7 linked regions of the Homo sapiens genome follow. The protein of the gene in region 1 purifies or fractionates together with the protein of each later gene. This does not show direct contact. Each region holds a gene or a part of one and is shown in the gene's direction. Other genes may lie near its edges. The genes, in order: BTNL9, RRP1, WDR44, INTS4, SLC30A6, TBC1D9B and NCAPG.

The links.
Region 2: the proteins of BTNL9 (region 1) and RRP1 purify together in Homo sapiens (affinity purification with mass spectrometry; one large-scale study listed by BioGRID and IntAct). This does not show direct contact.
Region 3: the proteins of BTNL9 (region 1) and WDR44 purify together in Homo sapiens (affinity purification with mass spectrometry; one large-scale study listed by BioGRID and IntAct). This does not show direct contact.
Region 4: the proteins of BTNL9 (region 1) and INTS4 purify together in Homo sapiens (affinity purification with mass spectrometry; one large-scale study listed by BioGRID and IntAct). This does not show direct contact.
Region 5: the proteins of BTNL9 (region 1) and SLC30A6 purify together in Homo sapiens (affinity purification with mass spectrometry; one large-scale study listed by BioGRID and IntAct). This does not show direct contact.
Region 6: the proteins of BTNL9 (region 1) and TBC1D9B purify together in Homo sapiens (affinity purification with mass spectrometry; one large-scale study listed by BioGRID and IntAct). This does not show direct contact.
Region 7: the proteins of BTNL9 (region 1) and NCAPG purify together in Homo sapiens (affinity purification with mass spectrometry; one large-scale study listed by BioGRID and IntAct). This does not show direct contact.

Annotation. Positions count from the first base shown.
Region 1 is NC_000005.10:181,050,056-181,054,162, forward strand, and holds part of BTNL9 (butyrophilin-like protein 9 isoform a precursor), read left to right. Parts: intron 1-32; coding exon 33-314; intron 315-3,144; coding exon 3,145-3,261; intron 3,262-3,411; exon of another isoform or gene 3,412-3,413; coding exon 3,414-3,446; exon of another isoform or gene 3,447-3,976; coding exon of another isoform or gene 3,977-4,085; intron 4,086-4,107.
Region 2 is NC_000021.9:43,799,528-43,803,242, forward strand, and holds part of RRP1 (ribosomal RNA processing protein 1 homolog A), read left to right. Parts: intron 1-42; coding exon 43-122; intron 123-989; coding exon 990-1,087; intron 1,088-1,334; coding exon 1,335-1,354; intron 1,355-2,746; coding exon 2,747-2,860; intron 2,861-3,715. UniProt on the Homo sapiens protein: Plays a critical role in the generation of 28S rRNA.
Region 3 is NC_000023.11:118,390,893-118,394,999, forward strand, and holds part of WDR44 (WD repeat-containing protein 44), read left to right. Parts: intron 1-1,739; coding exon 1,740-2,379; intron 2,380-3,162; coding exon 3,163-3,293; intron 3,294-4,107. UniProt on the Homo sapiens protein: Downstream effector for Rab11 which regulates Rab11 intracellular membrane trafficking functions such as endocytic recycling, intracellular ciliogenesis and protein export.
Region 4 is NC_000011.10:77,984,385-77,988,491, reverse strand, and holds part of INTS4 (integrator complex subunit 4), read left to right. Parts: intron 1-4,107. UniProt on the Homo sapiens protein: Component of the integrator complex, a multiprotein complex that terminates RNA polymerase II (Pol II) transcription in the promoter-proximal region of genes.
Region 5 is NC_000002.12:32,207,201-32,211,307, forward strand, and holds part of SLC30A6 (zinc transporter 6), read left to right. Parts: intron 1-2,292; coding exon 2,293-2,361; intron 2,362-3,696; coding exon of another isoform or gene 3,697-3,761; intron 3,762-4,107. UniProt on the Homo sapiens protein: Has probably no intrinsic transporter activity but together with SLC30A5 forms a functional zinc ion:proton antiporter heterodimer, mediating zinc entry into the lumen of organelles along the secretory pathway.
Region 6 is NC_000005.10:179,890,763-179,894,869, reverse strand, and holds part of TBC1D9B (TBC1 domain family member 9B), read left to right. Parts: intron 1-255; coding exon 256-484; intron 485-1,402; coding exon 1,403-1,661; intron 1,662-3,283; coding exon 3,284-3,491; intron 3,492-4,107. UniProt on the Homo sapiens protein: May act as a GTPase-activating protein for Rab family protein(s).
Region 7 is NC_000004.12:17,838,169-17,842,275, forward strand, and holds part of NCAPG (condensin complex subunit 3), read left to right. Parts: intron 1-1,507; coding exon 1,508-1,669; intron 1,670-1,902; coding exon 1,903-2,041; intron 2,042-2,438; coding exon 2,439-2,525; intron 2,526-3,018; exon of another isoform or gene 3,019-4,107. UniProt on the Homo sapiens protein: Regulatory subunit of the condensin complex, a complex required for conversion of interphase chromatin into mitotic-like condense chromosomes.

The DNA of each region.
Region 1 (4,107 bases):
CTGACCTTTCCCACTCCTCCTGCCTCCACCAGGGCTGGGCTCAGACCCTCACCTCTCCCTTGAGGGCTTCAAGGAAGGAGGCATTCAGCTGAGGCTCAGATCCAGTGGCTGGTACCCCAAGCCTAAGGTTCAGTGGAGAGACCACCAGGGACAGTGCCTGCCTCCAGAGTTTGAAGCCATCGTCTGGGATGCCCAGGACCTGTTCAGTCTGGAAACATCTGTGGTTGTCCGAGCGGGAGCCCTCAGCAATGTGTCCGTCTCCATCCAGAATCTCCTCTTGAGCCAGAAGAAAGAGTTGGTGGTCCAGATAGCAGGTCAGTGGCTGTTAGCTCACACCCATCTTCCTAGTCCTCATGTGTACATACACATTGGCCCAAAGGCAGTCTATAAAGACACAATGGTACTGCGCCTGTCTGCATATAGGGTGTGTTGGCCTTGACACCTGAAAAGTCAGCACCTTGGATATTAGGAACACACTAAGAACGCTACTGAGAACCCAAACAGTCAGTGAGAGAGGCCCCAGAGAGCCCGCCTTTCTGTGCCTAAGGCCATACACTAAAACCCATCAACTCTGCTCATCAGAGGCATCATGGGAGCCAATAGATTCGTAATGCTGTCTCTCAAACAGTATGTATTGAGTTTCCACAACGTGACCCCAGTCCCTACCCTCAGGTCCCCATGCCAGTGGGGGATACAGACAATAAGCAAAAGAAGTGCATCCTGTCACATCACGTTAGAAGGTGGTAGGTGCAGCCGGGTGCAGTGGCTCACGCCTGTAATCCCAGCACTTTGGGAGGCCAAGGCGGGTGGATCATGAGGTCAGGAGTTCAAGACCAGCCTGGCCAAGATGGTGAATCCCCATCTCTACTAAAATTACAAAAATTAGCCCGGCATAGTGGCAGGCGCCTGTAATCCCAGCTACTCGGGAGGCTGAGGCAGGAGAATCGCTTGAACCGGGGGGCAGAGGTTGCAGTGAGCCGAGATCTGCACTCCAGCCTGGGCAACAGAGCGAGAATCCGTCTCAAAAAAAAAACAAAAAAAAAAAAAACAAGAAGAAGGTGGTAGGTGCCGTAGAGAAAAATGAAGCAGGCTGAAAGCAGTGAGGCATGTCCACAGATTACAAAAGGCACGTCCAGGAAGTGGGCGTGTAGGCAGTGAGCTGAAGGCAAGGTCATTATTAAAGTCTTATTATGAGGCAGCCACTGAAGGGTTTCAAGTTCATGGTTCTAATTGTTTTACATTTTAAGGACAAACCCAACATACGGGCCACTTTTCACACGAGTCCAAATCAAAAGCTATTTTATTATAACAGAAAAAAACTCCCCCTTTGATATAGTCAGTCAGATACAAGCCAATGCACACATGTTCTCAAGATAAATGATAACTTGTCTGCAAGTAGGAGGACCTGGCAACACCGCTTACCACAGCAGTTCTAAATTCCGTGGGAATTGGGATGGCCATCTGTGTGAGCCAACTGTCTTTAACCAAAGGAAAAATCAAGCATGTGATACGTCTAGGGCATACAACTTGGAGCCACGCAGCTAAGCTAAACTCCCATGAGACAGGGATCTCCACGGCAGTGCTCTCTCTTTTATGTTTACATTTCAAACAAGTGGCCCTTAAGGAAAACATTATTGGGTTGTAAAGAAAGAACTGATATATTTTCTAAGGAAAATGAACTAAGAGAGGGGAAGAGGAAAGAGTCTCTCTTTTTGCACCAGGAAAAACCCAATATTTTCTTTTTAGCTTTTAATATAAATCTTAATTTATATTATTGATATTTATTATGAAACAAGTTTATATAAAAATTTTTAGATGGGTAAATGTTTGCATGCGCGGACCCCTCTACAGAGGGCGTGACTCACATGGATACCTTTGGGAAGGCATTCTGGTGGCGGGAAGGGCAAAGCCAGGGGCCTGAGAGGGAAACTGCCGGCTGCTGGCAGAACAGCGAGGAGGCCAGAGGGTCGAGGGGGAGGGTCACAGGTCAGAGAGACAGTCCGCCCTGAGCCCTTGCCCTTGACCCCAGGCCATTGCTTCAGACACCATCTGTTGTGAGGACCAATCCATTGTGACCCAGTGTTTTTGTACCATACAATAAAAATGCACTGCTAGAAAAACAAAATTAAAAACCACAGTCCACTGATGTCACTTATAAGCCAGACACACAGAACAAATGCCGTCTGATTCCACGGATGTGGGATTACCTAGAGGAGTCAAGTCCACAGGGATGGAGAGTATACGGAGGGCGCCAGGGGCTTGGGCGTGGGAAGAGGAATTACTGTTTAATAAGTACAGAGTTTCAGTTTTGAAAGATGAAGAAACTTCTGGAGATGGGCGGGGGTGATGGTTGCACACGACATGGTGAATGCACTTAATGCCCCTGAACTGTACACTTAAAAATGGTTAAGATGGGAAAGGTTGTTACGTATATTTTACTACAATAAAAAGAACATTTTTTAAAGATCTGAGATAAAAGCACCATTTTCTAATAACTAGATGACACAGACAGAAAGTTACTCTATTCAACCGCCACAGGGTTTGCGAAGGGCCGGTGGGTTCTGCGCGTCCCTGCGCCGCTGGTGCTGTCGGCGCTGCCCCCGGCCACGTCCTGCCTGCGGGCGGGTCCTCCCTGGGGAGCCGGGAGGGACGTGGGAGCTGCGAGGCCGCGCGCACGTGGTTCGGTTCTCACTTCTTCCAAAAGCGTGGTAAGAACCGAGGGAGAAGCCGGATGTTTGCAAACAAGCGAGGAGACGACTTGCGGACCAGACGGCGCGGGTGCGAGCAGGAGCTCCCCGGACATCCGCCGCCAGCCAAGCCCCTGGGACCCTCCCGCCTGCGGACGCGGGGCGAGGGCGGGAAGACGCGGGGCGAGGGCGGCGCTGCGGCCGCAGAAGCCTCGAGCCGGGCTGGGGCGCGGTTCCCTCCCGCACGCCCCGCGGCGCGCCCCCGCCCCCTCCGCCGCGCGCGCCCCCGCCCCCTCCGCCGCGCGCGCTCCCGCTCCACGCCCGTTTCCCAGGCGGCTGCGGTGGCGCCCGGAGAAGGTCCCGCGGGAGGTTTCCCGGCACGCGGCGGGCAGGCCGGTCTCGCCTCTCGGTGCTCAGCGGCGCCTGGACCGACACGGCCCCCGCGGGTGTTTTCCAGACGTGTTCGTACCCGGAGCCTCTGCGTGGAAGAGCGCGTTCGTCGCGACCCTGCCGCTGCTGTTGGTCCTCGCGGCGCTGGCGCTGGGCGTCCTCCGGAAGCAGCGGAGAAGCCGAGGTACCGGCGCGGGCGGCGGGGCGGGGAGGGGCACCGGCCGGTGCTGAACCCCGGGGCCGCGGAGGCGCCTCCCCCCAGGACGCGGCGCGGGAAGGCGGCCTGGAAGGGGCGGGGGCGCGCACTCAGCCCTCTCCGCTCCCGTTTCCCTTCAGAAAAGCTGAGGAAGCAGGCGGAGAAGAGACAAGGTGAGCGGGGACAGGGCGTTCTGCACGCACCTGCCCAAGTGCCAAAACCCGCCGTCATCTAAAGGCTGTGGGTCCCGTTACGAGGGTTTATTCCAGCGCGAGGTGTCAGGGCGGCCACCGGGGAACGGGGATCGGTGACCCCGGTGGGGAAGGGGGAAGATCGTTCATATGGACAAAAGCGGAGGTGCGGAACGGCTGCATTTTCCACGGAGGCTAGTGCACAGATGTCAGGGTTGACCGGCTGCTGTCGTTACGCCCTCGGAGCTTCACATCACACTGTACAGAGGGAGCGGTGACCAGGGTCTCTGCTGCCAGCGCCACCTCGTCCAGGTTTTCATAGCGCACAGGGAGTCGGGCGGATGCGCAACATCTCCGCACAGGGTCAGGAAGCGGCGGTCAGGCACCGAGAAAACAGCCCAGTTACGTGAGGCAGTGTCCGGGGCTTAACGTTTCCGCCGAGCTAATAGATTTGGGAGGCTCCGACCCTGATTTTCACACTAGCAGGAGGGAGGGCGCTGGGTCACCCTCCTATGCAGAAGGGCAGCCAAGGGTGCGCACTTCCCCATCCCCTGCCTGGAGCCTCACTTCCAGCCCAGCCTGGGCCCGCAGACCACCGCGGGTGGGAGTGCCGCATCGGAGGTGAGGCCTCAGTGTTCACCCA
Region 2 (3,715 bases), on another chromosome or scaffold:
CGTTGGGCACAGGTAGGGTTCACGGGGTCCCTTTTGTTCCAGGCTCCATCTGCAGGGCTGAACCTGAGGCTGGTGAGGAGCAGGCAGGTGACGACAGGGACAGTGGCGGCCCCGTTCTCCAGGTGGGTTCCCTGGGCTCATGGCTGTGCCCTCAGCCTTTGCCCCTCTGTGCTACCGCTTGCTCTGGAAGAGGAGGGGGGCGTTAGGAGGGAGGATGGCAGCTGTTGGCATGGAGAGTTACCCGGACAGGGGTTAGCTTTGAAGGAGGGATGGGTGCCCCAACCCTGCCCGCCTGTAGACGAGTGGGATCATTGAGAGTGGGGCTGGGGCCTGGGAAAGTGGGGCTGGGGCCTGGGAGGGTGGGCTCAGGCAGAACTGCATTATCCAGGGCTGGCCTCACCTCACGCTGTCCTCTTGCCTCACACATGGGCAGCCCCCCAGATTTCCTGCGGCCCCCTCGTTGGGGTGCTGGTGGGGAATGAGATGGCATGTGCCAAGCGGCTGGCCTGTGGGTCCCAGCGAGGAATCCACTCAGCCAGTGGGGTCTGACTTCAGGCAAATTGGAAACTTAAATGTTTTAAGTTTTAAATATGATTATCTGCAGACTGAATAAAATGTGGCTATCTTGGGTTAAAATTGATCAATTTAACCTATGTTGTTCGTGCTTGTCTGTGTGGTTCCTAGAGTGGTAAAGCTGCAGGCAGGCTACCGGCGGGCGTGTGCCCTGCAGTGTGCCCCGCAGTGTGCATCTTCCAGAGTGTGCCCCGCAGTGCGTGCCCCGCAGTGCGCCCGCAGCTTGTGTGGTGCCCGCTGTGCTGTAGAGTGGGTGGAGCTGCAGGACCCTCAGTGAGGGTGGGCTGTGTTCCTGTGAGCCGGGTGGAGAACCTGCAAGTGGGACCAAGTGCTATCTGGGTCTCAGGGGTTCCACGTTCTCGGAGCACGCAGAGCGTGGCTGACCTTGCCTCTGTGACGTCTCTCTTTTGAAACAGTTTGACTACGAGGCAGTTGCTAACAGACTGTTTGAAATGGCCAGCCGCCAGAGCACCCCTTCTCAGAACAGAAAGCGTCTCTACAAAGTGATCCGGAAGTGAGTGTGTGAGGGCGCTGCGTCCTCCCTGCTCCCCTTGGAGTTGCCCTTTCTTGCTCAGATCTGGGTGCCTTTGCCTTGTCCTGGGCCCTTCCGCAGCCCCCGGGGTGATCCCCGCTAGGACCCTGAGACCGTCCCCAGCCCCTGGGGTTCCCCTGGCTAGGAACCTGCAGCCGCTCTAGCTGGAGCTTCCTCCTCCTGCGGAAGCCGCAGCTGTGGTAAGTGGGTATCTGTCTTACTCTTTCAGGCTGCAGGACCTGGCAGGAGGTGAGGATCGGCCGGGCACTGACAGTGGCACCACCTTGGAGGTGGAGCTCCATCCTCGTGGGAGTGGTTTGGTTCTAGGGGTCTCATAGCACGTGGAGTCTCTTTGCAGAGAGGCCTGGTGGTGTTTCTGAGGGACAGGGAGGCAGGGCGCAGGGTTCCACAGCTCTCGTTTTTGTGGTTTTTGCTGAGTGGTTCTCAGACTTGAGTGTCCATTGGAGTGCCCCAGAGCCTGAGAGATGGGGTGCTGGCCTCAGGGGCTCCCAAGCACTGACCGCGGTGCTGCTGCTGGTCTGTTGGGCAGCACACGTCTGTTCTTGGCAGCGCGTGGCGGATGGAACTGGCATAGGTTATCGGAAGGACGGTTTCCTAGTGGGCGTCGATGGTTAGAGACGTAGGCGTTTCCCCTGGTGTTTCCTTATGAAAAGTTTCAGACCTGCAACTCAGTTGGAAGGATTTTATAGTGGATGTCTGCGTGTCCCTGCCGGCCTCCAGCATCAGCACTTCCTGTCCTTGCGTGAAGCTCCTCTATCCCAGCATCACACCCCTGCATCCGCCAGCGGGCGCGTCATCAGCTGTAGTCCAGGGTTTGGTTTTTTTATTTTTTATTTTTTGAGGCGGTGTCTCGCTCTGTTGCCCAGGATGGCGTGCAGTGGTGTGATGCAGCTCACTGCAGCCTCGATCTCCTGGTCTCAAGCGATCCTCCCGCCTCAGCCTCCCAGTCGCTGGGACCACAGGCGCACGCCACCACGCCGGCTAATTGTTGTATTTTTTGTAGAGACAGGGTTTCGCTGTGTTGCCCGGCTGGTCGTCTGGGGTTTTCGGGACAGCGCGCGTCAGTGAGGTGCGTGAGGATCGTGTGCATCTGGCAGGTTTTGATGCAGAAAGTTGCCTTGGGCCGCCAGCATGAGCATTGTAGGCTGTAGACTTTGGTGTACAGGTTGAGCGTCTCTAATCTGAAACCCCAAATCCAAAATGCCACCAAGTCCAAAGCTGAGTGCTGACAGGAAGCTCCAGGGAAATGCTCGTCGCAGTGTTTTCTGTTTGGGGTTTTCAGGTGAGGGCTGTTGAACTGGTGAATATGATGCAGACGTTCCAAAACAACCTGACATTCAAAGCACTGCTGGTCCCAGGCATTTGGGGTCGTGGACGCTCTATGCTGTACCTGTGTCCTGGATGCTCCAGGAACTGGCTTTTCCAGATGGGCTTGGGTCTCAGCTGGTTCGTTTCAGCTGTGGCGGGTACTGAACACGCTGCTCCTGGGCATTAGAACAGGGCGCTTTCTCACACACATTGTCAGGAGGTGGTGCTGGCTGGGGCCTGCTGGAAGCAGCGAGCCTCAAACCATAAGTCCCCAGCCCCCGAGAGCCCCCTGACTTCTGCCCTGGTTCTCAGGCATTTTCCCTGAAGATGAGATCCCAGAGAAGGCCTGCAGGCGCCTGCTTGAAGGGAGGCGGCAGAAGAAGACGAAGAAGCAGAAGCGTCTGCTCAGGTTGCAGCAGGAGAGAGGTAGGACTAGGGGGTGTGTTAGTCATGGAGCCGGCGTCCTCACCTGCTTGCTTCTCCCCTGGATGGGGGTCACCTGCAGTGTCTCCCCCTGAAGCATGAGTGCCGAGTCCCCCATCCTGGGTGCCTGCTATCCACGCATCCCGGAAATGCCCTGTCCTCGGCATCCCTCCTGTAGGCCTCTCCCTGCCTCCCCCACCCACCTTCCTTGTCTGCAGCTCCCCCGAGCTGTGTGCGCTGCCCTCCCTCCCGGTCTGGAGACATCCTCCTGGCTGGGCTGCCTCCTTCCGTGCCTCCGTCTTAGATCCAAGCCCCGTCCGCTCCTCTCCCGCACCCTCCAGAGATTCCTGAGTCTCTCCACGTCTTCCTTCCCCTTCTTCCCTCCACTTCTTCCCTCCACTTCTGTCCTTGATTTCTGGGGCTGCCTTCCGTGTTGGGCCTCTGGCCACACGAGTGTGGTTGGCATGTGATGCCCTCACCAGGGGCAACCCTGGGTCCGCGGCAGACCACTCAGGGCCTGGAGCTGCCTACCTGCAGTGGAGGGGGTTGAGCACAGTGCCGGGCAGGGCAGGGGGCCCATGGCAAGAATGGGGTGCAGAGGAGGCACATGGTGGCTTTGCCCCACACTGGGAAGCCTTCCCTGTTACTCTCTCCATGCTAAACTGGCCCCAGGGCCTAGGGATTCACCCCTTCCCTTGCCCAGAGCTCCGTGCCATTGAAGCCGTCCATCTCATTTCCCATGAGGCAGTGGCCTCCTCTTTGTAGCCGGCCCTTGGCTGTGTGAACCCTGTCGGCCCTGGCGTTCAGGACCTGGCACTGCCTGGCGTCCTGTTCTTCCACCTCCCCTTCTGCCTTGAG
Region 3 (4,107 bases), on another chromosome or scaffold:
TAAGACCTGGATTTCAGTTTTGGCTTTGTAGCTTACTAATTGTGGGACTGGCAAAATTCTTAAAGCCTTTACCTCAGAGTCCTGCTTTTCTAGGAGGGAGGTAATCCAGCTACCTAACCCAAAGGCCTGTATGACAATTAAATGAGAATGTGTATACTAGGTCTAATACACAGTAGGCCTTCTTTCCTTTCTTTTCCAGAACATTGCTCTGTTATCTTCTTTTCCAGTAGTTCCTTCCCTTCAGGTTATAAAAGTGCTGGGTCACTTTATCGAAGTCTTTTTGCATTTATAGCTAAGCTTTTTGAAAACTCAGACCGTGCTAATGTCTCTGTATCTTCACCTCTTATTCAATCTCAAATCCATTGTAATATGACTTCTGTTATCACTGTTATCATTGAGGTTCTCAGTGCTCAGTAACCACCTAATTGACAAATTGGTTGGACTCTGGTTAGTTTTGGTGAAAGCAAGGTAATTTCTAAGGTTAACAATTTGAAGTTTGAGAAAAACTAACATATAGAACATGCTAAGAAATCAGGGATGAATATTACTGAGCAGCAGTAATACCCAGTTCAAGTTAGCATGAAATTGTAGTAAACCAGATTAGGATGGTTCTATGATGCATTCTGTTAACTTTCTGAAGCCAGGGAATTGAGAAAGCAGAAGTTGTTCATGGTTGGACATGGTGGCAGGATAAGTGATCTGGGAGATTTAATATTAGTAATGACAAGACTGGGGAGAAAATATATTCTAAATGTTGGCAGAAGATAATAGAAAGCCTGTTTATATTTTAAGCTACATATAAGAAAGGGGGCCAGGCGCAGTGGCTCATGCCTGTAATCCCAGCACTTTGGGAGGCTGAGGCAGGTGGATCACATGAGGTCGGGAGTTAAAGGCCAGCCTGGCCAACATGGTGAAACCTCGTCTCTACTAAAAATACAAAAATTATCCCGGCGTGGAGCACCTGTAATCTCAGCTTTTAGGGAGGCTGAGGCAGGAGAATTGCTTGAACCTGGGAGGCAGAGGTTGCAGTGAGCCAAGATCGTGCCACTGCACTCCAGCCTGGGTGACAGAGTGAGACTCCATTTCAAAAAAGAAAAAGAAAGGAAGGGAAAAGACAAGGTGGACTGGGTATTTGAACTCTTTTCATGGTCCTGCCATCAGTCCACATAGTGGAGTTTAGGTGTAGTCTGTTTAAGAATGTTAATCTCCCTGCATCTGCTGGTTTTTGGGTCATAAGCTTGAGTTCAGAGCTAAACAACTTGAATTCTTCTCCTGGGGATTTGGATTATCGTGGTTTGGTTAAGTAGGCTCAAACCATTAGGCTGGTATTACAACAAGTTTGGCATAAATATGTAAATGAATCAGGATATTGAGTCTTAATGTAAGTTTAGGATTGAACTTGATTTTACAGGATTATTTGATCTTTTGTACCTAAGTATTAACACAAATTTGCTATTATGAGGGTTAAGAGTATAGATGCTGGAATCAAACTCCCTGGGTTTATACCTGCTTCATCACTTACTAGCTTTGTGACCTTGGACAAATCATTTGATTAGTTCCCTAATTTGTAAAATGGTGACAGTAGGAGTAGAATCTCATAAGGTTGTTGTAAAGATTAAAATATGTAAAGTGTTAAGAACATTGCCTGGCACATACTAAGTACTATGTAAATGATTAGCTGTTACTGTGTTCTTATAAATAGCTTCATTTTTAAAAACTACTTTTAACCCTTTCATCAGATTATTGAAAGTATTATTGAGGAGAGTCAGAAAGTACTACAGCTTGAAGATGACTCTTTGGATTCCAAAGGAAAAGAACTCTCTGATCAAGCTACTGCCAGTCCTATTGTGGCTAGAACAGATCTGAGCAATATACCCGGACTGTTAGCCATAGATCAAGTACTACCGGAAGAATCCCAAAAGGCAGAGAGTCAGAATACATTTGAAGAGACTGAATTAGAATTAAAAAAATGCTTTCCTTCTGATGAAACCTGTGAGAAACCAGTAGATGAAACCACGAAGTTAACTCAAACAAGTTCAACTGAGCAGCTTAATGTGCTTGAAACTGAAACAGAAGTATTGAACAAGGAAGCAGTGGAAGTCAAAGGAGGTGGTGATGTTTTAGAGCCTGTGTCCTCAGACTCCTTATCTACTAAAGATTTTGCCGCTGTGGAAGAAGTGGCCCCTGCCAAACCCCCAAGACACCTTACTCCAGAGCCTGATATAGTGGCTAGTACAAAGAAGCCTGTTCCAGCACGCCCACCTCCTCCAACTAATTTCCCACCTCCTAGACCCCCACCTCCTTCTCGACCTGCTCCACCACCAAGAAAAAGGAAAAGCGAATTGGAATTTGAGACTCTGAAAACTCCTGATATAGATGGCAAGTATTAATTGAGAAATCACTCTGTTGGTTGGGCACAGTGGCTCACGCCTGTAATCCCAGCACTTTGGGAGGCCAAGGCGGGCGGATCGCTTGAGCTCAGTTCAAGACCAGCCTGGGCAACATGGCAAAACCCCATCTGAGCAACAACAACAAAAAAAAATACAAAAGTTAGCTGGCCATGGTGGCACGCGCCTGTAGTCCCAGCTACTTGGGAGGCTGAGGCAGGAGAGTTGCTTGGGCCTGGGAGGCAGAGACTGCAGTGAGCCAAGGTCGCGCCATTGCACTCCAGCCTGGGTGATCAGAGTGAAATCTTGTCTCAAAAAAAAAAAAAAAGAGAGAAATAACTCTTTGTGGTGAAATTTTGGAGTTGAAACTGTTTACCTTTCTGCCTTTATTTCACTTTATTAAAAAACTCACTGGCAACCAAGTTATTAAAATTATTTCTTTAGTAATAGACAAAATGTAAAAATGTTTACATTGGTGAAAATTACTTTACTGTAATTGAACACTTCAGCAGACTTCAAACTTTCAATTCTGTTGCCATCTGAGAGAGAGTGGCATGGTGAAAAAAACTTGGGATTTGGAGACCTAAAGTCTGAATTCAAGTCCTGCATCTTTTTTTTGTATGAGCTGTATAGTCTTGAGGAAATTAAATAACTTGTTTGAACCATGGTTTCCCTGTATAGGAAATGAGAGTAATCAAGCCACTTTCCTCACAGGGTTGTTACAAGAATCAAACAAAAAGGGTTGTTATTATTGTTGTTATTATTATCATTGCAGTTCCCAAAGAGAATATTACGTCTGATTCTCTCCTAACCGCAAGCATGGCTTCAGAAAGTACGGTTAAGGATTCTCAGCCTTCTCTTGATTTGGCAAGTGCTACCAGTGGAGATAAAATAGTTACCGCCCAGGTTGGTGAATTAGTGTTCTGTTTCATATAGACTTTATCAGCTCCCTGCAACTGGCTGGTTTGTTGATGATTATTCTGTATTCTCCAGGCCAGATTTTTCTTTGTCCTCCAAACCTGACCCCCTTACTTCTCTTGATCAGCTCTGCTACATGCTAACTGGGTGAGCCTAGCAAGCTGTTTAGCATCTGGATCTCAGATGCCCCATCAATAAAATGGAGGAAAAGTCCTTCCTTGAGGGTTTGAAATGAGCTAAAATATGCCAAGTATCTAGCAGGTAATAGGTATTCAAAAAACGACAGATGCTACTATTTGTAATATTGTTGGTACTAATAAACACCAACTATAGTCTATGTTTGTCCTGTATTGGTCAGAATTGAAGACTTTTTTTTTTTATAATTTCCTTTTCCTAATCATAGAAAAACTTTATATGCTAGGAAGCGGGCTACACAAAAGACTTGATAACACTAATTTTACCACAGCCAGATTCTGGGACTCAGAGCTACTTACATGGTAGCTGTGGTGGGCCAGGCTACCACACTAGAATATAGGACACTATAGTCTTGTTATAGCCTTAGAGCAGGGGTCAGTAGTGGCCTGCTTTAGGAGGTTCCCCAAGCTAAGAATGTTCTTTACATTTTTAAAGGTTGTTTAAAATAAGAAGAAGAATATGTGACAGAGACTCTATATGAACAAAAATGCCTTAAATATTTACTGTATGGCTCTTTATAGAGAGAAGTTTTCTGACCCCTACCTTTGAGGTAGCCACATACAGTCCAGATTAATAGCAGTCTTAGTAGAGAAATGCCTTTTGGCCA
Region 4 (4,107 bases), on another chromosome or scaffold:
GTTCCTTGTCCATTTCCCCATGCAGGAACATAAGCTTCCCTTGAGCAGGGATTTTTATGTTTTTTAATTGTTGTTTCTACAGAATCAAGAACAGTGCCTGGTAAAATAAATATTTGTTGAATGAATAAATGAATTAATTGATGCTTTTGTGATACATTTTACTCAACAAATATATATCAGACTTTGTTCTGGGCACTGGACGGTGTCCATTAGCACAATTGTTAAGTCTTATGCGTTGCAATTGTTTGCCATATGTGTCTATCTCCTTCAGACTTTGAGCTCCGTAAATTCAGAGGCTGCAGATCCATTAGTCTCTATCCCAGTGCCTGGCAGGTTCCTAGGAACATTGAAGGGACATTATAAATGTTTCACTTATGTTTTACGTGAATAAAATCAGGCTTTCTTTTTTTGTTGTTCTTTTCTTTAAAAAATTTTTTAAAAAATCGTATCTATCTATCTAGAGACTGGGTTATGAGACTGGCTAATTTTTATATTTTTGATAGAGATGAGGTTTCACCATGTTACCAAGGTTGGTCTCAAACTCCTGGGCTCAAGCGATTCACCTACCTCAGCCTCCCAAAGTGCTGGGATTACAGGCATGAACCACTGTGCCTGGCATCTTTTTGAGTGTTGCTCTGTTGCCCAATCTAGAGTGCAATGGCGTGATCACTGCCCACTGAAGTCTGGACTCCCAGGCTCAAGCCATCCTCCCACCTCAGCCTCCTGAGGAGCTGGGACCACAGGCACATGCCACCACTCCCGGCTAATTTTTTCTTTTTAATTTTTTTTGTAGAGATGGAGTCTCTCTGTGTTGCCCAGGCTGGTCGCGAATTCCTGAGCTCAAGCAACCCTCCTGCTTGGCCCTCCCAAAGGATTGGGATTACAGACGTGAGCTACCACATCTGACCAAAATCAGGATTTCTGTTCTCAAGAAGTTTTCGATCTCTCAGTGATCTATTTTCCGTTAGTCTTTTTCTTAGCAATATCTACCATTATTATTATATTAAAGATCTGTTACCAATAATCATCTATAATAATACTTCTTAGAGCAGTTAACATTATATTGCTTGTTAGAGTTTGAAAGCACTTTCCATATGTAATATTTTATTTAATCCTGGTGACAGCACCATTGTTATCTCTAAATTCCAGATATGGAACTAAGCTTAGAGCTGTTTAGTATCCAAGGTCACCCAGCTAGTAAATGGAAGGTATGGATTTGAACTTGGGTTTTTTTTTTAAAAAACCTTTTGTTATGGAACATTTCAGATATATACTATGTAAGTAAAGAGAATAGTTTAATTAATTCCCATGTACCCATTACCTGGCTTCAAAAATTATCATTTTGTGGCCAAACTTGTTTCATTTTCCCTCTTCCCCAATCCACTTCTACTTCTTTACCCTCACCTTCTCCACCAGATTCTTATGAAAATAAATTCCTGGCATCATATTATTTTAATCATAAATTTTGATTTATATCTTTAAGTGGTGAAGACTCTTTTTTTATTATTATACTTTAGGTTCTAGGGCACATGTGCACAACGTGCAGGTTTGTTACATGTGTATACATGTGCCATGTTGGCTTGCTGCACCCATTAACTCATCATTTACTTTAGGTATTTCTCCTAATGCTATCCCTCCCCCAGCCCCCCACTCCCCAACAGGCCCCGGTGTGTGATGTTTCCCGCCCTGTGTCCAAGTGTTCTCACTGTTCAATTCCCACCTATGAGTGAGAACATGCGGTGTTTGGTTTTCTGTCCTTGTGATAGTTTGCTGAGAAGGATGGTTTTCAGCTTCATCCATTTCCCTGCGAAGGACATGAACGCATCCTTTTTTATGGCTGCATAGTATTCCATGGTGTATATGTGCCACATTTTCTTAATCCAGTCTATCGTTGGTGGACATTTGGGTTACTTCCAAGTCTTTGCTCTTGTGAATAGTGCCGCAATAAACATACGTGCACATGTATCTTTATAGTAGCATGATTTATAATCCTTTGGGTATATACCCAGTAATGGGATTGCTGGGTCAAATGGTATTTCTAGTTCTAGATCCTTGAGGAATTGCCGCACTCTCTTCCACAATGGTTGAACTAATTTACACTCCCAACAGTGTAAAAGTGTTCCTATTTCTCCACATCCTCTCCAGCATCTGTTGTTGCCTGACTTTTTAATGATTGCCATTCTAACTGATGTGAGATGGTATCTCATTGTGGTTTTGATTTGCATTTCTCTGATGACCAGTGATGGTGAGCATTTTTTCATGTGTCTGTTGGCTGCATAAATGTGGCGAAGACTCTTAAAAAACATAATCTTTTGTCATGTCTAAAAGCAAAATTTAACTCAGGTGTTCTGATGTCAGATCTCAAGCACTTTAACCAGTCCATGCTGCATGCATTAATCAAGTGGACCCTAGCTCCTAAGGAAATGAGGAGGGATGCCAGATGGACCCAGTTCTAGATTGTTGACCATAGTGTTTTTTACCCTTTCTTCTGTTCTATCCAGAAATGTGGTATTTTATGTTAATATTTTAGTGGATAAAACTACTCTGGCTTCTGCTTTTTCCTACTTTTTTTTTGTGATCAGGCATTAGTATCTGAACTTATTTCACATGATTGATTCTTCACTTATGCTACTGTGCTAGTAGCTATGGAGGATGCAGAGCTGTGAGATATGTTCTTTGTCCTTTAGGGGCTAGCAGTGTAGTCGGCAGACCATATATGTAGTATGTAGATAGTAAGTGCTAAAGTTTTCCATTTGCTTATTTTTTCATTTGCTCAGCATGTCTGAATACTTACTCTGTGCCAGGCTTTGTGCTTCATGTTGGTAATAGAGATGTAGATGATGTAATCCCTGATCTGAGTCTTGAGTAAATAAGAAATGAATTAATAACAATACAGTGTTTCAGGTCTTATGAAATCTGGGGTAGGTTATGATATGGCCTCAAAGAAGGGGGCGATTAATTATTGGAAGCAGGGATCCAGAAATGCATTATAGAGTGGTAGCGATGCTTGAGAAAAGTCCTAGAAATAGATTTTGGCCAGTTGGAAGACAGGGGGAAAGACATTTTAGTTGTGAGCAACCGTGAACATGGGCATGGAGATGTGAGACAGGCTATCACATTAGAAGAAATGCAGCTAGTTTGGCTGGTGCAGATTTTAGGTTGGGAGCTCATCAAGAGATAAGACCAGAAGATTTGGAAGGCATCTGATTCTAAAGGGCCTTGTATTCTACCTTGTCAGTTTTTGTTTTAGAAATGTCACTCTGAGGGGAAGTATGGAGGATAAAGGAATTGGATGGACTGGAGTTAGAGTGACCAATTAGAAGACTGTAAGTTTGGGGAAAGGTGATGAAAGCCTGAACCAAGACAGTTTTAATGGTCAGAAGAAACAATTATTAGAGAAGGCTTCCCTGGAGGTAATTCTGTTTTTAGCTCAGGTGTGAAGGAGATCATTTATGTGTCATAGTAGAAGGAGTGCTAAGGGATTATTTCAGAAAGTAAAAGAACTTGAGTAAAGTATCCAAATGGATAAGGAATGTCACTAGGTCAGATGCTCTCTTATCTGCTTTTTTTTTTTTTTCATTTACATTTATTTTCTTTTCCCCCCCTTTTTTCCCTTTTTTTTCCTAACAAGGTCTCACTCCAGGCTGGAGTGCAGTGGTGCTATCATGGTTCACTGAAACCTCCACCTCCCAGGCTTATGCAATCCTCTCACCTCAGCCTCCTAAGTAGCTGGAACTATAGGCATGTGCCACCATGCCTGGCTAATCATTTCTTAATTGTGGTAACAATTAAAATTTATTATCTTAACCATTTTAAGTGTGCAGTTCATGTGTGTTAAGTACATTCATATTGTTATGCAGCCATCACCACCATCCATCTCCAGAACTCTTTTCATCTTGTAAAACTGAAACTCTTTCCCCATTAAACAGTAATCCTCCATCACCCCCACCTCCAGCCCCTGGCAACCACCATCTACCTTTTTTTTTTTTTCATTTTTTGACACAGAGTCTCACTCTGTCACCCAGGCTGGAGTGCAGTGGCGTGATCTCAGCTCACTGCAACTTCTGCCTCCTGTGTTCAAGTGATTCTCCTGCCTCGGCCTCCCGA
Region 5 (4,107 bases), on another chromosome or scaffold:
TTTTATTTAGTTATTTAGTTATTTTTTTTTTGAGACAGTCTTGCTCTGTTGCCAGGCTGTAGTGCAGTGGCGCAATCTCAGCTCACTGCAACCTCCACCTCCCAGGCTCAAGCAATTCTCCTTCCTCGGCCTCCTGAGTAGGTGAGACTACAGGCGCGTGCCACCATGCCCAGCTAACTTTTTCTTTTTTTTTTGAGACAGAGTCTTGCTCTGTCGCCCAGGCTGGAGTGCAATGGTGCCGTCTTGGCTCACTGCAACCTCCGTCTCCCAGGTTCAAGTGATTCTCCTGCCTCAGCCTCCTGAGTAGCCGGGACTACAGATGCAAGCCACCATACCCAGCTAATTTTTGTATTTTTAGTGGAGACAGGGTTTCGCTGTGTTGGCCAGGCTGGTCTTGAACTCCTGACCTTGTGATCCACCCGCCTCGGCCTCCCAAAGTGCTGGGATTACAGGCATGTCCACAGCGCCTGGCCCGCCCAACTAACTTCTGTATTTTTTTTTTTTTTTTTTTTTTTTCTGAGATGGAGTCTCGCTCTGTCGCCCAGGCTGGAGTGCAGTGGCACAATCTCGGCTCACTGCAACCTCCGCCTCCTGAGTTCAAGTGATTCTTCTGCCTCAGCCTCCCAAGCAGCTGGGATTATAGGCGCCCACCACATGCCTGGCTAATTTTTGTATTTTTAGTAGAGACAGGGTTTCACCATCTCGACCAGGCTGGTCTTGAACTCCTGACCTCGTGATCCACCCACCTCGACCTCCCAAAGTGCTGGGGTTACAGGCATGAGCCACCAGGCCCGGCCTAACTTTTGTATTTTTAGTAGAGACGGGGTTTCACCATGTTGGCCAAGATGGTCTCAATCTCTTGACCTCGTGATCCACCCGCCTCGGCCTCCCAAAGTGCTGGGATTATAGGTGTGAGCCACCGTGCCCAGCCTGTTTTTTGTTTTTTTTGAGACTGAGTCTTGCTCTATCACCCAGGCTGGGGTGCAGTGGCATGATCTTGGTTCACTGCAACCTCCGCCTCCTGAGTTCAAGCGATTCTCCTGCTTCAACCTCCTGAGTAGCTGGGATTACAGGCTCCCACCACCATGCCTGGCTAATTTTTGTATTTTTAGTAGAGACGAGGTTTCACCATGTTGGCCAGGCTGGTCTCGAACTCCTGACCTCAAATGATCCGCCCCTTGTGACCTCCCAAAATGCTGGGATTACAGGCATGAGCCACTGTGCCCAGCCTTTTGTTGTTTTTTTAAAATATATATATAAAAAGAGATGGGGTCTTGCTATGTTGACCAGGCTGGTCTTGAACTCCTGCTCTCAAGCCATCCTCCCATCTTGGCCTTCCAAAGTGCTGGGATTACAGGCATGAGCCACTGTGCCCGGTCAAATGCTGTGATTTTTTTTTTTTTTCCAGGGGGTACAGGGTCTTACTCTGCCACCCAGTCTGGAGTGCAGTGCCGTGTTCTCTGCTTCCCACCGGCTAATTGTTGTACTTTTTTAGTAGAGACAGGGTTTCGCCATGTTGGCCTGGCTGGACTCGAACTCCTGGCCTCAAGTGATCTGCCTACCTCAGCCTCCCAAAGTACTGGAATTGCAGACATGAGCCACCATGCCCAGCCTAGACTTTCTTTTAAGTTGTTACAAATTTCCACCTACTAACTAATGAAGAAATAAAATAATGAACTATTTTGATGTTGAAACTATTTTAAACCTTTGATTGTCAGTGTGACAGAGGCCACTTTTACCAGTATAACTGGCTACTACTCTCAACTAGTGAAGCCTGGCCTTGAGTATGTGTCCTGTGCAACTGTACCAGTGGGCTACACACTATATATCTGGCCTTGGAATTTCTTCTAGACTCACATCCAAACAACATCCTGTGTTGTGCAGAGATTTGTTATAAGGGATTTCAGAGAAAGAAGTGATTGAGAAAACAAAAAAATTAAGTAAAAAATCTGATACCACAAAGTGCTAGATATAAATATATTCCATATTGATATGAAAAGAACCATACACTGTTGAAGAAATTGGTTGGGGTAGGGGTTTAAAACTGAGCAGTGGGGACCTGATTCTAAAAGAATTGGGGCAAGCAAGAAACGAGGAAAGCAAGGTCTTGGGTCAGTATGGAACAAACAGGAATGGTATCTTGAGTGGTCTGAGACTTCTCTTAGCTAATGAGTGTCCTTGTGCAGGATTTGGCTGTCATTCTTAAGTTTAAACTAAGTCCATAATGTGACTAAACTGCATTGGATATGTTAAGTACAGACAACTCTGATCACCTCTTTCTGTTTTTGGTAGGTATCTACCTTAGATGGAGTTTTAGAAGTCCGAAATGAACATTTTTGGACCCTAGGTTTTGGCTCATTGGTATGTTCTTTTACATATGACTTTAGTTATAATTTAAAATATAGTCTTCCATTTTTAAAACTGAAAAAAAATATTTCCTTAAAATTTTTATAGAGCCTTTGATTCCTAGTTATGTTAAGCAGAGTCTAAAATGTACATGAATTCAATTACCTAATTGAGGGATTTTTTGGTGTTTAGAGACAGGGTCTCACTCTGTTGCCCAGGCTGGTGTTGAACTCCTGGCCTCAAGCAGTCCTCCCGCCTTAATCTCCCAAACAATAGAGGAATGTTTTTATTTTTTTTCCATCAAACATGTTAATGATAATAATACAGGAGTGTCCAGATAAGACAAATTTGTAGTCAGTGTAATTTCCAAATAAGAAAATGTTAAAAAAAATTAAAAGTGCAATTGCTTTCTTTTTTAACTGTAGTTCTCATTTTGGAGAGTTTGCTGAATATTTTGAAGAACTACAGTAACACAACTTGCTTCAGCATAAAATTTCGTATTTTCTAATTCAGTTTGAACCTCAATACCAGAGAGACTTTATTATGACACGGTTTTACTCGTACGTTAGGAATGATGAGGAAAATACAGAAAATGTAAAGCACTATAATCTTATCATCTAAAGAAAACTGCTGTTGATATTTTGGTGTTTATACATTTATTTTCCTTAGAAAATGAGATCACGGGCTGGGCGTGGTAGCTCACGCCTGTAATACCAGCACTTTGGGAAGCCGAGGCGGGCAGATCACCTGAGGTTGAGAGTTTGAGACCAACTTGGCTAACATGGTGAAACCCCATCTCTGCTAAAAATACAAAATTAGCTGGGCGTGGGGTGTGGCACACGCCTGTAATTCCAGTTACTCGGGAGGCTGAGGCAGGAGAATCTCTTGAACCCGGGAGGCAGAGGTTGCAGTGAGCCGAGATCACGCCATTGCACTCTAGCCTGGGTGACAGAGTGAGACTCTGTCTCCAAAAAAAAAAAAAAAAAAAAAAACAACAGAAAATGAGATCATGCTGTTTTATAATTAGCTCTTTTTGTTTAATTAATTTATCATGAACAGTTTTCTATGTCATTAAATACTCTTCTACAGTATCATTAAAAAAAACAGATAGGGTTTGATTTTTCTAATATAACACAAATTTTATAGATAAACAGATCAAAGCTGGTCTAGCAGTTCAATGATATTACCCACTTTGCAGTCTTTAGTTTCAGGCTATGCTTTTGTAGTGGGAAAATGGTTGCTTCACCTCCACCTTCCCCAACTCTTTCCCTCTCTCATTATTTTGGATGTCTAAAACTTATTACAAGAAAAACTTGAGACTGTAACATCCCCTCCCTCCTTACTGGGAAGGTGCCAAATGACCAGAGTGTCAAGAGACCAAAGAATGACTTGGACAGGTCCAGCATGGCCAGTAGGTGAGTTTGTTAGGAGTTACCTATGGGGCACTCCTGGGAAGCAGGACAGCTTTAGAGATCTACCCACCTCCCATTTCTAAGCTGCTTTTAAGCTAATTTTCTCGCTCTTTGCCTGCTGTATGTGTGTAATGAGACTGTTTTCCTTGGTAGGGTCTCAGATGCTCTCTAAAATCTTTGGTTCTCAGGGTCGCTTGCTCCTCGACTGTACACCATGGCTTTGGCTCATTGCCTGGCCTTCAGAGTTCGGGCAGCGGACATACATCATCGAATAACCTAGTGGGGGACCCACCACACTACACTTCTTTAAATTCTTTAGAAGGGGCCGTTGGGAACAATATTCTCTAAA
Region 6 (4,107 bases), 1.2 Mb from region 1:
AAAGCCTCTGCTCACAACTGGTGATGACAGTAGTTACGGGAGTTGCAGGAACTTTGTCTAGAGAGTCACACAGGCAGCGTCTCTCATCCATGTGCCTTGACTGCAAGCCAGCAAGAGCCACTGACTGTTCCCAGCTGTGCCTGTAGCCCTTAGACCAAGGTCCATGAGTCCTGGGTTCCCTGGGCCTCTCTGCTCCACCCTTTGACCTGTCCGGGACTGTGCAGGGCAAGCCCTTGTCCTCTTGCCTTCCTCCAGGGAATCATCGCAGAAGAGAACAAGAACCTGCAGCCCCAGGGAGACGAGGACCCCGGGAAGTTCAAGGAGGCTGAGCTGAAGATGCGGAAGCAGTTTGGGATGCCTGAGGGCGAGAAGCTGGTGAATTACTACTCCTGCAGCTACTGGAAGGGCCGCGTGCCCCGGCAGGGCTGGCTGTACCTGACGGTCAACCACCTGTGCTTCTACTCCTTCCTGCTGGGGAAGGAAGGTGAGCCCGCCCCTCAGTGTGCCCCAGCCCCCACACCCTCAGCCCCTCCCTGCCTTCGGCCCCCAGATACTCCATCCCCACATGGCCACCAGAGGGGTCTCCCTGAAACCCAAATGCCACCTTAGCGGCCCAAGATGGGACTGTCCGGCCTTGGCCAGGCGTACACCTGCTCCCAGCCGACTTTTACCATGCCCCCCACTCGCTAGTAGGGTTCTCTACATGGTGACTCCGCGTGCCTGCCCTGCCCTCTTCTGCTGAACTGGCGTATTCAGGCACACGTCTGTCCCAAATTCCTGGTGATTCCATGTCATGCAATGCCTTGGGTGCGTGCCACAGCCCTCATCTGCTGCAGGTTCCTCCCTACAGACATCCCGGCCACAGGATGCGAGCCTGATTTCCCAGCAGCTCCAGAAAGAGCCCCAGGGTCTTAGCCATCCCCAAGCCCACCAAGCCCTCCTCCCTCCTTGCCTCCCTCAGCCCACAGCCTCCCTGTGCCCCCTCCTGCCCTTGCCGCTTACCTGTCACGACCAGGTGGCCAGTCACCTCCCGTCAGCAGGGGCTGTGTCCTGTTCTGTGTTGGCCGCGCTGTGCTGTGACTGTTCACACCTCCGTGCGCTCCCACTTGGGGGAGCTGCTGGGTGGGTCTCGGTGGTTCACCTCCGCACGTTCGTTCCTTTCCCCTTCAGCCACTGGTGGGGGAGACACTCACCGTGTGTGGTTGGTCTGGAAGGCAGTGGACACCTCAGTGGCCTGGTCCCTCCACATGGAGGGCGTGACACAGCCCAGACAGGCCTGGGCACACAGGAAGTGCTGCCCCCAGAGAGCAGTTCCCTGGGATGGGTCTGGGGTACAGATGGGCATCAGGAGCCTCGCCCTGCCAGGCCCTAACTTGCGGTGTGTCTATCTCTGTGGGCACAGTGAGCCTCGTGGTGCAGTGGGTGGACATAACGCGTCTGGAGAAGAACGCCACCCTGCTCTTCCCCGAGAGCATCCGTGTGGACACCCGCGACCAGGAGCTCTTCTTCTCCATGTTCCTCAACATCGGCGAGACCTTCAAGCTCATGGAGCAGTTGGCCAACCTGGCCATGCGGCAGCTGCTGGACAGCGAGGGCTTCCTGGAGGACAAGGCCCTGCCTAGGCCCATCCGGCCACACAGGAACATCTCAGCCCTGAAGCGGTGCGTTGCCCTCCAGGGCTGGGGTGGGCTCATGTGAGCCAGGTTCGCTGACCTTGGCTGGGACCTGCCTGGTCCAAGTGTGTAGACCTGGAGAAGGTGTCCACATTCACCCCTCATGGGCTCCCCACTTGGGAAGGAAGCCAGGTAAACAGATCATTGCAGTCCCGTGTGGAGAGGCAGCAGGAGATAGCAGTGATGTCCTGAGGATACCACTAATGGGGAGGAAGCTCTTCACACTTTATTCCTCTTGGCCCTATGATGGGAAGGGGCTCTTACCATCCCTAGGTATCAGACAAGGAAGCTGAGGCACAGAGAGGTTAAGTAACTTGCCTGAAGTCCCTCGGTTAGTGAGCAGTGGAGCCAGGATGTAGCCACCTCAGCCAGGGTGTTCTGACACCCCCAGAAAGGCTTTGGTAAATCTGGGCTCAAGTGCACGGCCTCCGTCCCACCGTGATTGACAGCTCTCCTGTATACCCTGAGACTCCTTGGCCAGAGGCCTCTCACAGCCATGGGACCCCCAGGGGTCCTGAGTTTGACGTGGAAGCAGACCTCTGGGTCTGAAGCCAGCCAAGGAGATGGGCCATGTGTGGGTCTGAGTTCCCTGCTGCCCTGTCCAGGGGACCGATAGGCAGGAACACATCATAGCAGCCAGCCCTCCCGGGCTACTTAACGTTTGGGTTCCTAGGTTGTAGCTTATGGGAAACTCCAGAGGCTGGACAAGATCTCTGAGGTTCCCTGGGTCCCACAGCCAGCCTGACCACAGCCAGATTCACACCCTTGTGTTGAGCGACCTCATTCCAGCCAGGCCATTTCCTGCATTGCACCCACAGACTGTGGTCCAGGCCCAAACTCTGGGGTCCACCTCCAGGACCAGAAAATTGTGCAAGCATGTTGTCCTTGGGATGCAAGTGACAGGTTGGCTTGTTGGACCTTTTGGAAAGAACACGAGCAGAGATGGAACATGACTGCTCCTGGCACTGCCGGTGAGAATGCAGTCAGGCCCTGGTCAGGCCACTGCGGCCCAGGGCAGGCAGGAGGCTCCCTTTGGGGCTGGGAGAGTTTATGTGGACAGAGCCACCAAAGGGGTGAGGGCCTGGGCCAGGCCACTGTCACAGCCATCAGATACACAGGTGTGCATTTCTGTTAGCAGCCGCATGCTTTAGTTTAAGCTCCACACCTCCCTGTGGGGAGCTCCTCACCTAGGTTTCAAGGTGAAACCTGGGGTTAGGCCTGCCCAGGGTGGAAGAGCTGCCCGGGGCCCTCCATCTGAGTGGGATCCAGGGCAGGTGCTCTGGGCTCTGCTTGCCCATCAGTACCGAGGGATGGGTTGCACATTGCCCAGGCCAGCATCTAGGTGTGTCCTTTTCAAAGCAGTCTCAGGACACATTGCTTGCTGGCCACTTCTCCGCTGGTTATGTGACTGTCTCACCTTCTGCCTGCTCACTCAGCATGCATCTTTTATTGAACTCTGAGGTCCCTGAGCATGACTTGCTCAAGGGACCACCCCAGGGATCCTGAATCTGATGTGGAAACAGGCCTGGGGAGGCCCCAAGGCTTCCTTGAGAGTGTGCTGGTCCTGACCTTGTCCCCTTTCCTCCTGTCCTCCTACCTTGTTTCCCCAGAGACCTGGACGCCCGAGCCAAGAATGAGTGCTACCGAGCCACGTTCCGGCTGCCCAGGGATGAGCGGCTAGACGGCCACACAAGCTGCACCCTGTGGACGCCGTTCAACAAGCTGCACATCCCTGGCCAGATGTTCATCTCCAACAACTACATCTGCTTCGCCAGCAAGGAGGAGGACGCTTGCCACCTCATCATACCCCTGAGGGAGGTCAGCATCCCCTAGTTGAGAGGCCAAGGCCTTTCCAGCCCCGAGGTGTCAGTGGGCTCAGGGACCAGCCTGTCCTGCTCTGCCCTGTCTCACTGGGGGGTACCTGGGAGGATGCCCTAGCCCAGGCAGTCACATGTCACTCAGTGATGGGACAGGTGGAGGGTGTAGGACAAGTGAGCCCCTCCACAGGCACCTGCCCTGTTGGGGAGGCAGGTAACATGGTGGGGGCACACTGCTTGCCCTCTCAGGTCACTTGCCTAGTGGAGACAGGGTCTCCCACGCGTGAGTTTCCATCAGGCCTGCCTTCTGGGCCCTGCAGGGCAAAGTGCTGCTCCGTGGCTGCGCTTAGAGGACCGTGTTCCTGCACCGGTCCCATATGTCACTCTCAGAGGCCACCTCACCAGTCCTCTCTGGACATACCACCTTGGCGTGGCTCGGCTCCAGCAGGCCATCAGAGGTCGGCTCTCCCCTGTGGGGCGGCGTCGGCTCTCCCCTGTGAGGCTGCATTGGCTCTCACTTGCTCCTTCTTGGGTTTCTTGGACTTCCACAGTGACCCTGGTGGGAGCAAGGCCATCTGTCCTGCACTGCACCGAAGGGGTGTGGACAGCAAGGACAA
Region 7 (4,107 bases), on another chromosome or scaffold:
TCACCTCAAGCTTTTTTGGCTTTTAATTCAAAGAAGATAAATCAATTGCACACTGACTCACAGACTGAACTTAAGCTGGGTTGTTTTAATCCTTTAATGGCATTTGGTCAAACTTGTTACCATTTTTGAAATTTAATGTATTAGTGATTTCAGATGCTAACAGATTAAGTTGAAAGTATTACTCTATTTTATTTGATATTTAGTGATAAGCTACTCTGTTCAATTCATATGTTGTATATTATTGGAAAGATAAGATTACAAAGGATATTAGGCAAAATTAGGTAAGGGTCAGTAATAGAGCTATTAAGCACTTCATGACTTGAGACAAGGGCAAGAGTCATGTGGTAGGAATGATGAGTACAGCATTAGTTTTAAAACTCATTGACCAAAATTCAGTTAGGCCTTGTTGGTATTTGGGGAGTGGTTTGGGTAGAGGAAGGATGTTTTAGTAAAGGTGATATATGTAGATGGTTATGCAAATATTGGGGAACTGTAGAAAGATGACTTTGGCTAAGGATCCTGAATAGGACTGTTAGGGCACAACACTGGGGGTAGATTATAGATTGCTTTAAAGGCCAATGTAGGGAATTTGGAGTTGGCCTTATGTGCAATGGATAATTATGCAGGGCTTATGATGAAAGGGTTAATGTCATGAAAACCACTTATTGGAAAGATTAATTTGGTGGTCAGTGGTGGTTATATGAGATGAATTGGTGAGCAGAAAGAAAAGAATATTAATAAAGAAAGCAGCTGAAAATCTGTATAATTCGCTTGTAGAAAAAGTACTAGAAAGTAATAGTAGAAAGAATAGAAATTGACCTAATAAAGAATTATGGGTACAAGAATCTAAAAGAAAGAGCTTGAGAGGCAAGGGAGATGGAGGAGTCCAGGAAAACTCTAAGTATGTGTAACAGCAGACTTCAAAGGAGCTGTTGACATAGTTTAATTGGGGAGTACTCTCATGATCAGTGTCTTGGAAGAGTAAGGGAAAAGTAGATTGGGGCATAGCCCTAAGTTCAACTACTGCTATGCAAACAAAGGCCCCAGCCAATCCCATAGGGAGTTCCGGAACTGGGATGTTCCTTTGAGTTGTCCAGAATGGAGACAAGCTGAAACACTGTACTTGTGCACGGGCCAGTCATTGGATTTGGACAAATCTTTGGGAGAAGAGGTATGATCTTGGACAAGGTCCACCAAAGTCCACCATTGTCAGCCTGGATCAGTACTGCAGCTGGGAACTTTTACCCTCCAAAACATGCAGCAACTGGGGGATGAGTGCATCTTTCCTAAAGGGAGTGGAACTGGGCCCTATATCACAACATCCACAACAAGAAGTCAAGAAGGGGAGCTTATTTTGGGGGTAGGGAGGATGTTAAATTTGGTTTTAGACATTTTATATTTGGGATTATGGCAAGAAAATTAGTTGGAAATATTTGTTAGATGTGTAAGACTATATAATAATCATAATCATCTTCAATTTACAGAGAATTTTCTCTTAATTTTTTAGGCCTTAACAGTACATGACAATTTGGCTATGAAAATTTGCAATGAGATCTTAACAAGTCCGTGCTCGCCAGAAATTCGAGTCTATACAAAAGCCTTGAGTTCTTTAGAACTCAGTAGCCATCTTGCAAAAGATCTTCTGGTTCTATTGAATGAGATTCTGGAGGTAAAGTAGTTTCTCATTACTCTAAATTAGTTTGTGTTTATATTTATACATGTAGAATTTACATGGTTGTATTAGATTATACATATGTTAGCATATTGTGACTTATTTGAAGTATTTTCTTCATAAATTTCATATAATTTAGTGTTTTTAAACAACTTGATATGTATTGGTACTATTTTCAAAGATTAGGGAATGCGGTGTTTACAAAATGTTAATAATGTTTTCTTTTATAGCAAGTAAAAGATAGGACATGTCTGAGAGCTTTGGAGAAAATCAAGATTCAGTTAGAAAAAGGAAATAAAGAATTTGGTGACCAAGCTGAAGCAGCACAGGATGCCACCTTGACTACAACTACTTTCCAAAATGAAGATGGTAATCACATACTGAACAGAATATTTATAAGGTTCTGTTTTTTTTTTTCCATCTTTACTGAGACATATTTTTTTCTACTCTAACATGTTTGGTTGGACATCAGAAATGAATGAAATTTTTTTTCTAATTAATCCTCTTGGGAAAGAGCATTACTGATAAATGTTTATTCTGCTTTTCAAGTGTTTTTTGGCATGCATTTCTCAACATATGACCATCTTTTTAAGAGTTTTGCTTCTTTTTCCAATATTCAAATTTTCGAAAGGGTGATTTATAACTTTTCACTAGCTGCTAGAAGGACTTTGTCATTTCAGTTTTATAAAAACTGGTCTTAAAAAGACAATTTAAAATATTTCATGAGGTTATCTTATTTATATTGTTGTATTATTCCCTTTAATAGAAAAGAATAAAGAAGTATATATGACTCCACTCAGGGGTGTAAAAGCAACCCAAGCATCAAAGTCTACTCAGCTAAAGACTAACAGAGGTAGTGTGTGGATTGACCATCTTTATGATAAAAGTTTTAAATTTTATCTTCCAATGAAAAATACTTGTTTTGCAAGTTTTCTTATCTTTGTTTCCTTAGGGATAAAGATTTTTTTTAAAATGTCTTTGGTATCCTTTCTTTTTAATTCTTTCTGTGGATGTCAGTTTTTGCCTTGTGTCTAAAGATTATAAAATCAGTGTTGCTCTTGGTGCTTTAGATTGAAAGAAGTATGATGCAAAAGATATTACAAAAGACAATTTGGGTTAAATTAAGATTTGGTTAAATGATGGTTTTATATTAGTTATTTGTGTTCTATCCTTCCTGTAACTAAGCATTTTTAAAAAATCCCTGTAGTATTTTTCTGGGCTTTGTTTTCCTTCTATTCCCATCTTATTTCATATTTTCCCAACTTATTTCCCAAGGGCTATCCAACAATAGGGGATCTGTTGGCAAAGTAAATGCTGACTATTAGGGGGTCACTTGGAAAAAAATCTGAAATTCAAGATCTTTTTATTGTTTTATTATTTCCTCATTACAAAAGCAATGCATGCTTATTACAGAAGAATCAGAAAGTACATCCAGACAAACTACTATAAGGAACACTAATAATCCCACCCATGAGCCAACCATGATTTTGATTTTAGAAATCTATTTTTTAAGGCCCTTTTCGATGCAGATTTAATTTTTTCTAAAATGGAGTCTGGTCATAATATTGTTTTGTAACCAGTAAATTATTTAAATACCAATTGCTGGATATTGTTCCAAATTAGTCCCATATTGTTGGATGTTTTCTTGGGGATAAATGCATTAGTAAAAGCAGGTAAGGAGTAGAAAAAAGTGTAACATGAATGAAGTAGAGTATATAATTTTCAGACTGTCACATTGAACAGTTTGGTTTTGATCAGATTTTTTTTGTGGTATATCACACCATGAGAACACCATCCTTTTTAATAGACCAAACTTCATATATTCATATTGTTTTATTCCTTATAAATGAGAAACATCACAAGCCAAACTTTGTCTTACTCCTTAACCTTGTAAATTTCTAGTAAGTAGAATCTTATAATCCCCAGTATATAAAGGTTCTAGTTTTTACATTGAAATATATTTTAGAACACATTTGAATTGGTCATGTATGTTATTTTACAAGAAGCCATTATTACCTTACTATGTTTTATCACCTTCCAAGAAAAAAAAAAGTTGTTTCTTTAGCACCTGTTTATGCACCTAACCTACCTTTCTAACCCTTAATTTTCATGAGTCTCCACAGACTTTGTGCTATAGCAATAATAGAGGTACTTCATTATAACACATTTTTCATATACTGTCCTCAAATACATTGAACTAAAATTTGCCTTCTTTTAACTTGCTTGAAATTTCCTTATTTTCCCTTACTCATTATTAGTGCTTACAAAATAAATTAAGTTTTAATCTTGCTTGGGTTCCTTTTTCTGTGGCAGTGATAACTGGTACCAAGATGGCTAGAACAAGTAGGAGATACATGTGTTGAAAGGATTGTTGTGTTGAAGACAAAGGATTTAGTTAGCCTAGAAACTAGATTAAAAACAAAAAGCAACTGATA